Regions from separate parts of the Homo sapiens genome. Here all the other regions are linked to region 2. The links come from fine-mapping of genetic effects on gene expression. A gene starts in region 2. Each other region holds a variant in brackets. All regions are shown on one strand. Distances are from middle to middle.

Region 1 (2,670 bases), 22 kb before region 2:
ATCTGTGGGGGAATGGATACACAATGAGGTTTTACTACTAAAGTTAGCTATTTGGTAAAAACTCTAGGAAGAGTTCCATCAAGAAAATGGTTATTTTGGAAAGACAAGTTATGATTATTTCCAAAATGTCAAAAGAAATAAGAATGTAAACACCATATACTTAAAATGTTAATACAATAATATTAACTCAGTCAAATAAATAAAAGAAAGTGGCACCAAATTTATGGCAATTTTTCAAAACAAAAATGTAGCTTAAATATATTTTAAAATAAATAATTGGTTCAAATACGGACGACCATTCTCAGCACAAACTAACAACATTCAAAATAAAGTGCTATGAGAAAAAGTAGCCCCACAATCTTCAACTTATTCACATATGAACAGAGATACTATCTGGATCTTTAGGTCTGAAATATTCACCACGAGTGAAAGCTAGAGGCCAGGCTTAGGGCCATCTTTTGTCATTTTTCTTTTTTCTTCCAGCGTGTGCTTAAATATTTTCTTCAGGGTGTTGTAAACTGTTGGTCCATTTTCAGAATCAAAATTAACCTGGTGACAAAGAAATTTATATTCAGGACACTGTAACAAGAATTTGAACTAGTTTCTATTTTGAGAGAAGGAGGGGGTGGAGAAAAAAAACAGACTTACAAACAAAACTCTATATAAAATACACATAATAAATTTCACACATTTTATTTGAAAGACTATTAGAACTGCCAACCATGTCAATATCAAACTTATGAATGAAAACCCCAAAATTAAATCTAGTGCCTGGATATTTAGTCTAATTATATACACCCAGTCATGAAGCAAGTCAACAGTGGGTGTGAAGTGAATTTTTTGAGACTAATCATTGATGGTATAAGAGAAAAGTTTCCCATATTAAAACAGCACATCAGCTGTATACGTCCTGCTGAGAGGCCCTACGGCCACTCTGGACAGGGTCAGAGTGACCTGAATAGAAGCCCAGCTCCCCACCTGCCAGCTACATGTCCTCATCTCATACCCAACCTCTCTGGACCTTGATCTCCTCCTTTGTAAAACAGAGATAATGATACCCACCTTCATAGGATAGCGTATCTATGAGTCTAACATGTTTGGCACATATATACAAACCTCAACTGGCTGGGTGTGGTGGCTCATGCCTGTAATCCCAGCACTTTAGGAGGCCGAGGTGGGAGAGTTGCTTGAGCCCAGGAGGTTGAGACCAGCCTGGGCAACATGGCAAAACCTCATCTCTACAAAAAATTAAAAATTTAGCCAGGCATGGTGGCACATGCCTGTAGTCCCAGCTACTTGGGAGGCTGAGGTGGGAGGATTGCCGGAGCCCAGGAGGCAGAGGATGCAGTGAGCTGAGATTGTGCCACTGCACTCCAGACTGGGTGACAGAGTGAGACCTTGTCTCAAAAAACAAACAAACAAACAAACAAACAAACAAACCCCACCTTGATAAAGTAAATTTCCTTTCCCCTTGATGGGAGCGCACTATTTACACATATTTGCATTTTTCA[C/T]CCAAGTTTACCATACTCTGGGTTAGCAGTGATGGCAGGACAGAGAACCAGAGCAAGTACCCACCCTCAACCCCATTCCCAGAGTAATGTGTAACTCCCTGGGAAAGAATCAGGGTCACACAATCACTGCTTCTCTGCTTCTGGAATTTCTCCCTCTCTGATAAATTTTGACAAATGAAAGGTTGTTCCCTCTGTCAACAACTGTAAAGGATCTGAGACCTTAACCTGTTAGCTTGCCAGTGTTATGGATACTGGTAGAAGATACGAGATTCCTGGGTCAGAGACAGACAACTTTTATTTCTCACAGCTGCATGTGCTTCATGTTCACATGGGTTCTCCTTGTCTCTCAAGTCTCATGGAGGCAATGCAGAAGGGCCTAGGTGGAGGCTGCACAAGCACGGGGTTTGCCTCATAGCTGAGGAGCCCCAAGCTTAGGAAACTCCAATGTTTCACAAGGGGGCTGCAAGCAAATCTGCCAACCTTTGCCCTGAAGGGAAACATTTTTATTATCCTGGAAGTCAGAACGTGTGCCTTCTGCTCTCCAGGCAGAGCTCTCCAGACATTAGTGAAGAGTTGATCCTCAAAGAGAGTGGTCAGGGCATCTGCTCATCAGACTATGAAGAGACATGAGAGACCCAAGGAAAACTGTCTCCTAACATTTTCTATAGACAGATTTTGAACAACTGTTATCTCTAACTTTTCATTCGTATCCCCTTAAAAGGCCAAAAGAAGTTGTAAAGAATTCCTACTGCTTTCAGAGAGACCAATCGTAAGGATTTTTTTCAGTTAAGCTCAGGAATTTAATTTTATCTATAACTATATTATCTATCCCCTTTGCAAAAAACTCCTTATTAACATTAATAATGGTGTGAATTGTTTACTTTTTTTTTTTTGAGATGGAGTCTTGCTCTGTCGCCCAGGCTGGAGTGCAGTGGTGCAATCTTGGCTCACTGCAAGCTCCGCCTCCCGGGTTCACACCATTCTCCTGCCTCAGCCTCCCGAGTAGCTGGGACTACAGGCGCCTGCCACCATACCCAGTTAATTTTTTTGTATTTCTTTTTAGTAGAGATGGGGTTTCACCATGTTATCCAGGATGGTCTTGATCTCCTGACCTCGTGATCTGCCCACCTTGGCCTCCCAAAGTGCTTGGATTACAGGC
Region 2 (2,670 bases):
TTCAAATGTGATTTATCAGAATTTTTCAGATGTTACTACATCAAAAAGGTGTATTTGACTAGTTTACTGTTTAATAAAAAGCAGTATGATTAAAGAACAATATTAATTTCACTTATACACCATAAAAAAAGCAAATATCTTATGTTTTCTACTGAGCTGACAACTTGTACCACTTTTATTAGGGTAGACTGAAGGGTATTTGTATGAAAATGTGACCTTTCATATAGAATATAGGAATAACATAAAAGCTAAAGCTTACCTACATGAAACTGAAAAATTACACATGTACATCATAATTTTCTCAAATTTATAGCTGAAGTTTTATTATTTCTAAACATTTCTGAAATTTAAGAGCTATCTAATTATCCATTTCTTCAATACACTTTATATATATCATTTCACTTAATTAAAAAACCCTATGGTTTTGGTTTTATTATTTCCACCTTACAGATAAAGAAACTGAGGGTCAATAGGCCAAGATCACACAGCTAAGGCAAAGCCAGAACTGACTGGCAAAGTGAGGTCCTGACTTCAAAGTCCCACACTGCTCCTCCCACACTTCAGGGCTCCTGGCTCACACAGAGTGTCCTTCCTGTATCCAACAGAGCTATGAAAGACCAACAGGATCACTCACCAGGATGAGTAAACCCCCTTAATGGCTTGCTCCTGCTCACTCCAGCGGGCTGGGTTCTCATACTTGCAAGCTCTACCGCCACACGCCATGGAACATGCCATGTGTCCAGGAATGACATGCCGTAAACGCTCCCCTACTTTTGTGTACTTTGGTGTTGGACGTTCTAAATTTCCTAGAACATATAAGGAAAGGAAAATTCAAAATTCCACTCTCCAAATGAAATTGTAACATGGGAAATAGCTTCCATTTTATCTCAGGATGGTAGATGACAAGCCAGTGCAAAATCACCTTCATCTTGTCAAGAAAACAAAACTGTTTCCCTGTCAAAGTGACATATATCTCTTAATGTAAAAAAGCTTTCACATATAATAATCTCCACACATACTGGCAATTAGGAGGAAGAAACTGTAGAAGCAGATGTTTTACAAGAGAATGAGTTTTGTTCAAACCTATATTTTTAATAAAAAAACACAAAACATTTGATCATTTTATATCCTCTTATATATTCACTAAAATAGCATAACAGACAGCAAAAAGTATAATATAGAATAAACTGCCAATATTTAAAAAGGTATAAACACAACACAGCTGATTCCCATTCCTCAAACTTATATACATAGGTATGGCAATCTATAAGAAGAAAGAGACCTTTACTTTTTCTTTCGGGGAAAGTTGGGTTTCCCTCTGCATGGCTGACTGAGGAAACAGCCACCATCACCTGGAGAGAGGACGAGGACAGCAGCTTCGTGGCAGAGCCGGAGCCCAAGCCAGAGCCCCGCCGGGCCTGCTGCAGCCGCAGTACTGGGTCTGAGGTGGAGTGCCGGCGGCCCTGGAGAAAGGAGCTGAGGAAGCGCACGGCTGAGGGCCGCCTGGTTGCATCCTGCACCTGCATGGCACTGGGAGGCAAGAGCCGGAGGCAGGAAGAGTCAGCCCCACTCACTCAGTGAGGAACTTTCACTGAGAGCAGGGAGCATTGCATCGTTCTGTATGATCTAAGAGCCATTCAGATTGGCTGACTGGTTTCCATGGCGACAAACAAAGAAACTACTGATTCCCACTTAGATCTGAACAGGCAAAATCCAATATGAACAGATTGCATTTTGGACAAATTGTTCAAATATAGGGAAGAATAATATAAATTTTAAATATATTGATTACTAAATTTTGTTTCTCAAATGCACTTAAAATATCTAACCAAAGAATTACTCCCCAAAATACTGTAGTGAATTTAGAAAACTGTCTTCCTGATGCAAAAACTGCCTTTTACATACATGTTAAAAGGCTTAAATTCTGTTATTCTGTTCACAACCTGTCTCTGGATATTTTGAAAAAAATTACCTTTCTACTCCTCGTTTGAATAGTGCAGAAAAAAGTTAATTGTAATAAAGTGGGATATGCTGGACACCTTACAAGATTATTAAAATATCATCCAATTTTTCATAACCAAAACCACTTCTATTTTTTCTTGGTAAAACTATTAAAGAAATACTTGGATAGAACAAATAAAGACATTTTTAGAGGTGATATATTATCAGAAGACATTTAACTTCATGTGTTCATTTTCAGAATATAAAAACCCAATTCTTAGTTATGCCTCTGTTGGACAGTTATAGTAGCCATGCCTCTCAAAAACTCAAAACACCATTCTCTGCCTTTTGTTGCAGTGAGGGAAAAAAGAAGCTTCAATAATGTCTTGGCAGAGGCATACAAAGAAAGATCACTAAATATCACATTTTTAAAGGAACTAGATGAGGGGGAGGTTGCAACTTGAAGATAAAGGATATAAAGAAAACAGAAAGTGCAACAACCACTAATGTACTCATTGTCCGCCTCCTCCCTTGTTAATGTCAGGCTGCGCCCTCGCTTGCTCGCTAGCTCTCTGCACAAGTGGTATTTCAGATGTGTGTGCACAGAAACAAACTACTGTACTGCTACAGATAAGGCTATTTTCTATTTTTTTTTTTTTAACGATTACTAATGCTATACCAAGCTCCTTTTAAAATGCCGCCCCCATCTCCCCAGTAATGTGCACTTTT
Region 3 (2,670 bases), 370 kb after region 2:
GAATGCTCATATCAGCTTTTTGAAACATTTTAATTTTTTTTTTTTTTTTTTTAGACAGAGTCTCCCTCTGTCGCCAGGCTGGAGTGCAGTGGCATGATCTCAGCTCACTGCAATCTCTGCCTCCCGGGTTCAAATGATTCCCCTGCCTCAGCCTCCCAAGTAGCTATGACTACAGGCACGCACCACCACGCCCAGCTAATTTTTGTGTGTGTGTGTGTTTTAGTAGAGATGGGGTTTTACCACATTGGCCAAGATGGTCTCGATCTCCTGACCTTGTGATCCGCCGGCCTTGGCCTCCCAAAGTGTTGGGATTACAGGCATATTAGCTTTATTTGTAATAGCTGAAAGCTGGAAACAGCTCAGATAGTCTTCAGTGGGCGGAGCTAACCTGTGGTATGTTCATACCATGGGGCACCCCTCAGCAACCACAAGGAAGGAAGTTATGATGTACACAAAATTGTGGATGAGTCTCTAAACAGTTATGCTGAGTCAGGGAAAAAAAGCCAACCAGGAAAGGTTATATGCTATATAAATCCATGTCTATGATAGTCTAGAAATGACAAAATTATTGAAATGGAGAACAAATTAGTTGTTGCCAGGGTCAGGGACAGGGTGAGAAGGAAGGAAGTGGATGTGACTATGAAAGTTTAACATGAGGGATCCTTGGGATGATGAAAGTGTTCCGTGTCTGCGCTGTGTCAATGTCAGTATCCTGGCTGTGACACTGTACTGCAGTTGTTTTTCAAGATGTTACCGTCGGAAGAAGCAGGGTAAAAAGGTACGAGGATCTCTCTTATCATTTAATACAACTGCATGTGAATTTACACTTAACTCTAGATAGAAAATGTAATTTAAGATAATCAGCAATGTAACAAAATGATGCTTCCCACTCACCACGGCAGAGCCCACACTGTTGGAGCAGGGGACCACACCCAACTCTGGAAACCTTTCTCTTTGTCTCAACCTCCTGGGACTCCCCTCCATAGTACCAATCCCTGACCCCAGAACCAATGAAGTCCAACTAGAAAATTGTGACATTATCTCAAAAAACTGCCTGTTACCAGGTCAGCCCCAGGAATGCAGCTGAACCTCCTTTGAAAACCCATGCCTTTGAAAAAGCAGTGCCCATAAACCCGGGACAAATGGACTTTGAGGGGATGTGTGCTGAAAAGGAGGCTTTGCCCGCCACGGCTCCATTCCTCATGGGGAAGGCACTTGGACCTAAAGGCACTTGGACCATTCACAAGTTCTTGGCTCCGCCTGGGTCTGCTCATAGATCTCCTCTCATGGAGGAAGTTGCCAGGAACACCCGCAAGGGGAAAGAAGTTGCTGTGATGGAATGGAGACAGACGGTCTGGGGCCCACGTTGCACCCCACCTGGGCAGCCCCTGCGCTACCCACTTCCCTGCAGCCACAAACCGAGGTTTGTCCCAGTCACCAGCCAGGATTATTCTGCAAAAAGCCCTGATCCCTCAGAATATTGTCTGTTGAGGTGCTGGCATTCTGGAATGTCACCTTGGGAAGAGAATAGCCAGGGAAGCTGGGAAGTTGCCACCAAGAAAAATGTCAGGGAGTTGGGTAAAAGATCTCTTCCCGGAAACTGCAAGAAATTGACCTCTGGCCTTGCTCACCCTGGGGACAGACAGCTCATGCACCTCCATCATGCCCTTCAGGCCACAGCGCTGGTTATGGCTTGTTTCCATTTGTGT[A/G]TTTTTCATTCAACAAGTATGGGGTGAGCTTTGGGGCAGTGAAAACCCCTTAGTGTTGAGTCACAAAGAACTGGGTTCCTGTGCTCTCTGGGTAACTTCAGAGCTGCCTCCTTGGGTAAGATGTGCTCCCTACAAGTCACATTCACCGTCTGTGAAAAGCAGGTAATAGGTCCCCTGTTTTCTTGCCTATTACTTGTTTTCATGTGATGACTAGAAGTAATCTGTGAGAGGCACTGGTGTGTTGGGGCTCTTCAGAGAAACAGAACCAAGAGAATATTCCTCTGTCCACACCATATATAGTGTGGTAGTGTGGGGTGTTTTTTTGTTTTCTTTTTTTTTGCTTCGGGGGGTTTCTTTTGAGACAAGGCCTCAGTCTGTCACCCAGGCTGGAGTTCAGTGGTACTATTTTGGCTCACTACAGCCTCAACCTCCCAGTCTCAGGTGATCCTCCCACTTCAGGTCCCAAGTAGCTGGGATTACAGGCACATGCCACCATGGCAAGCTAATTTTTTGCATTTTTTGTAGAGATGGGGTCTCACTATGCTGCCCAGGCTGGTCTTGAATTCCTGAGCTCAAGACATCTGCCTGCTTCGGCCTCCCAAAGTACTGGGATTACACCTCAAAACCACTCCTGGCCAGCGGTATTATGGTTTTAGTTTGCATTTCCCTGATGGCTAATTATACACACACACACATAACACACACACACACACACACACACACACACACTGAGATATATAAACATATATTGAATCTCTATGTCCTCTCTCTTTCTCAGATATATATATATATGAGAAGGCATTTGCAATGCGTTATGAAGCATTGGCTTGTGTGTTTACGGAGGGGTTGAAGTCCCGCAGTGTGGTGTCTGCAGGCTGGAGACCCAGGAAAGCAGTGCTGTAATTCCAGTTTGAGTGCAGACACCTGAGAAGCAAGGGAGCTAAGAGTGTAGGTCCCAGTT

Evidence for each region. PIP is the estimated chance that this variant, and not a neighbour inherited with it, causes the effect.
Region 1: its variant is the best candidate, but not a certain one, in a credible set for the expression of PTPDC1 in nasal epithelium (TOPMed, PIP 0.90).
Region 3: its variant is the best candidate, but not a certain one, in a credible set for the expression of PTPDC1 in subcutaneous fat (GTEx, PIP 0.55).

Annotation. Positions count from the first base shown.
Region 1 is chr9:94,105,707-94,108,376 of GRCh38, reverse strand. It overlaps PTPDC1 (protein tyrosine phosphatase domain containing 1), which reads right to left. Exons shown (of 9, transcript NM_001253829.2): 9 at 1-549. The coding sequence ends at 433. Among named protein-coding and RNA genes, the nearest start is that of PTPDC1, 23 kb to the right of the region's middle. The variant C/T (reference allele first, on the strand shown) is at 1,512.
Region 2 is chr9:94,083,387-94,086,056 of GRCh38, reverse strand. It overlaps PTPDC1 (protein tyrosine phosphatase domain containing 1), which reads right to left and starts at 1,593. Exons shown (of 9, transcript NM_001253829.2): 1 at 1,283-1,593; 2 at 635-806. The coding sequence starts at 1,526. RefSeq lists a silencer at 1,376-1,670.
Region 3 is chr9:93,711,706-93,714,375 of GRCh38, reverse strand. No RefSeq gene overlaps it. Among named protein-coding and RNA genes, the nearest start is that of MIR4291, 110 kb to the left of the region's middle. The variant A/G (reference allele first, on the strand shown) is at 1,710.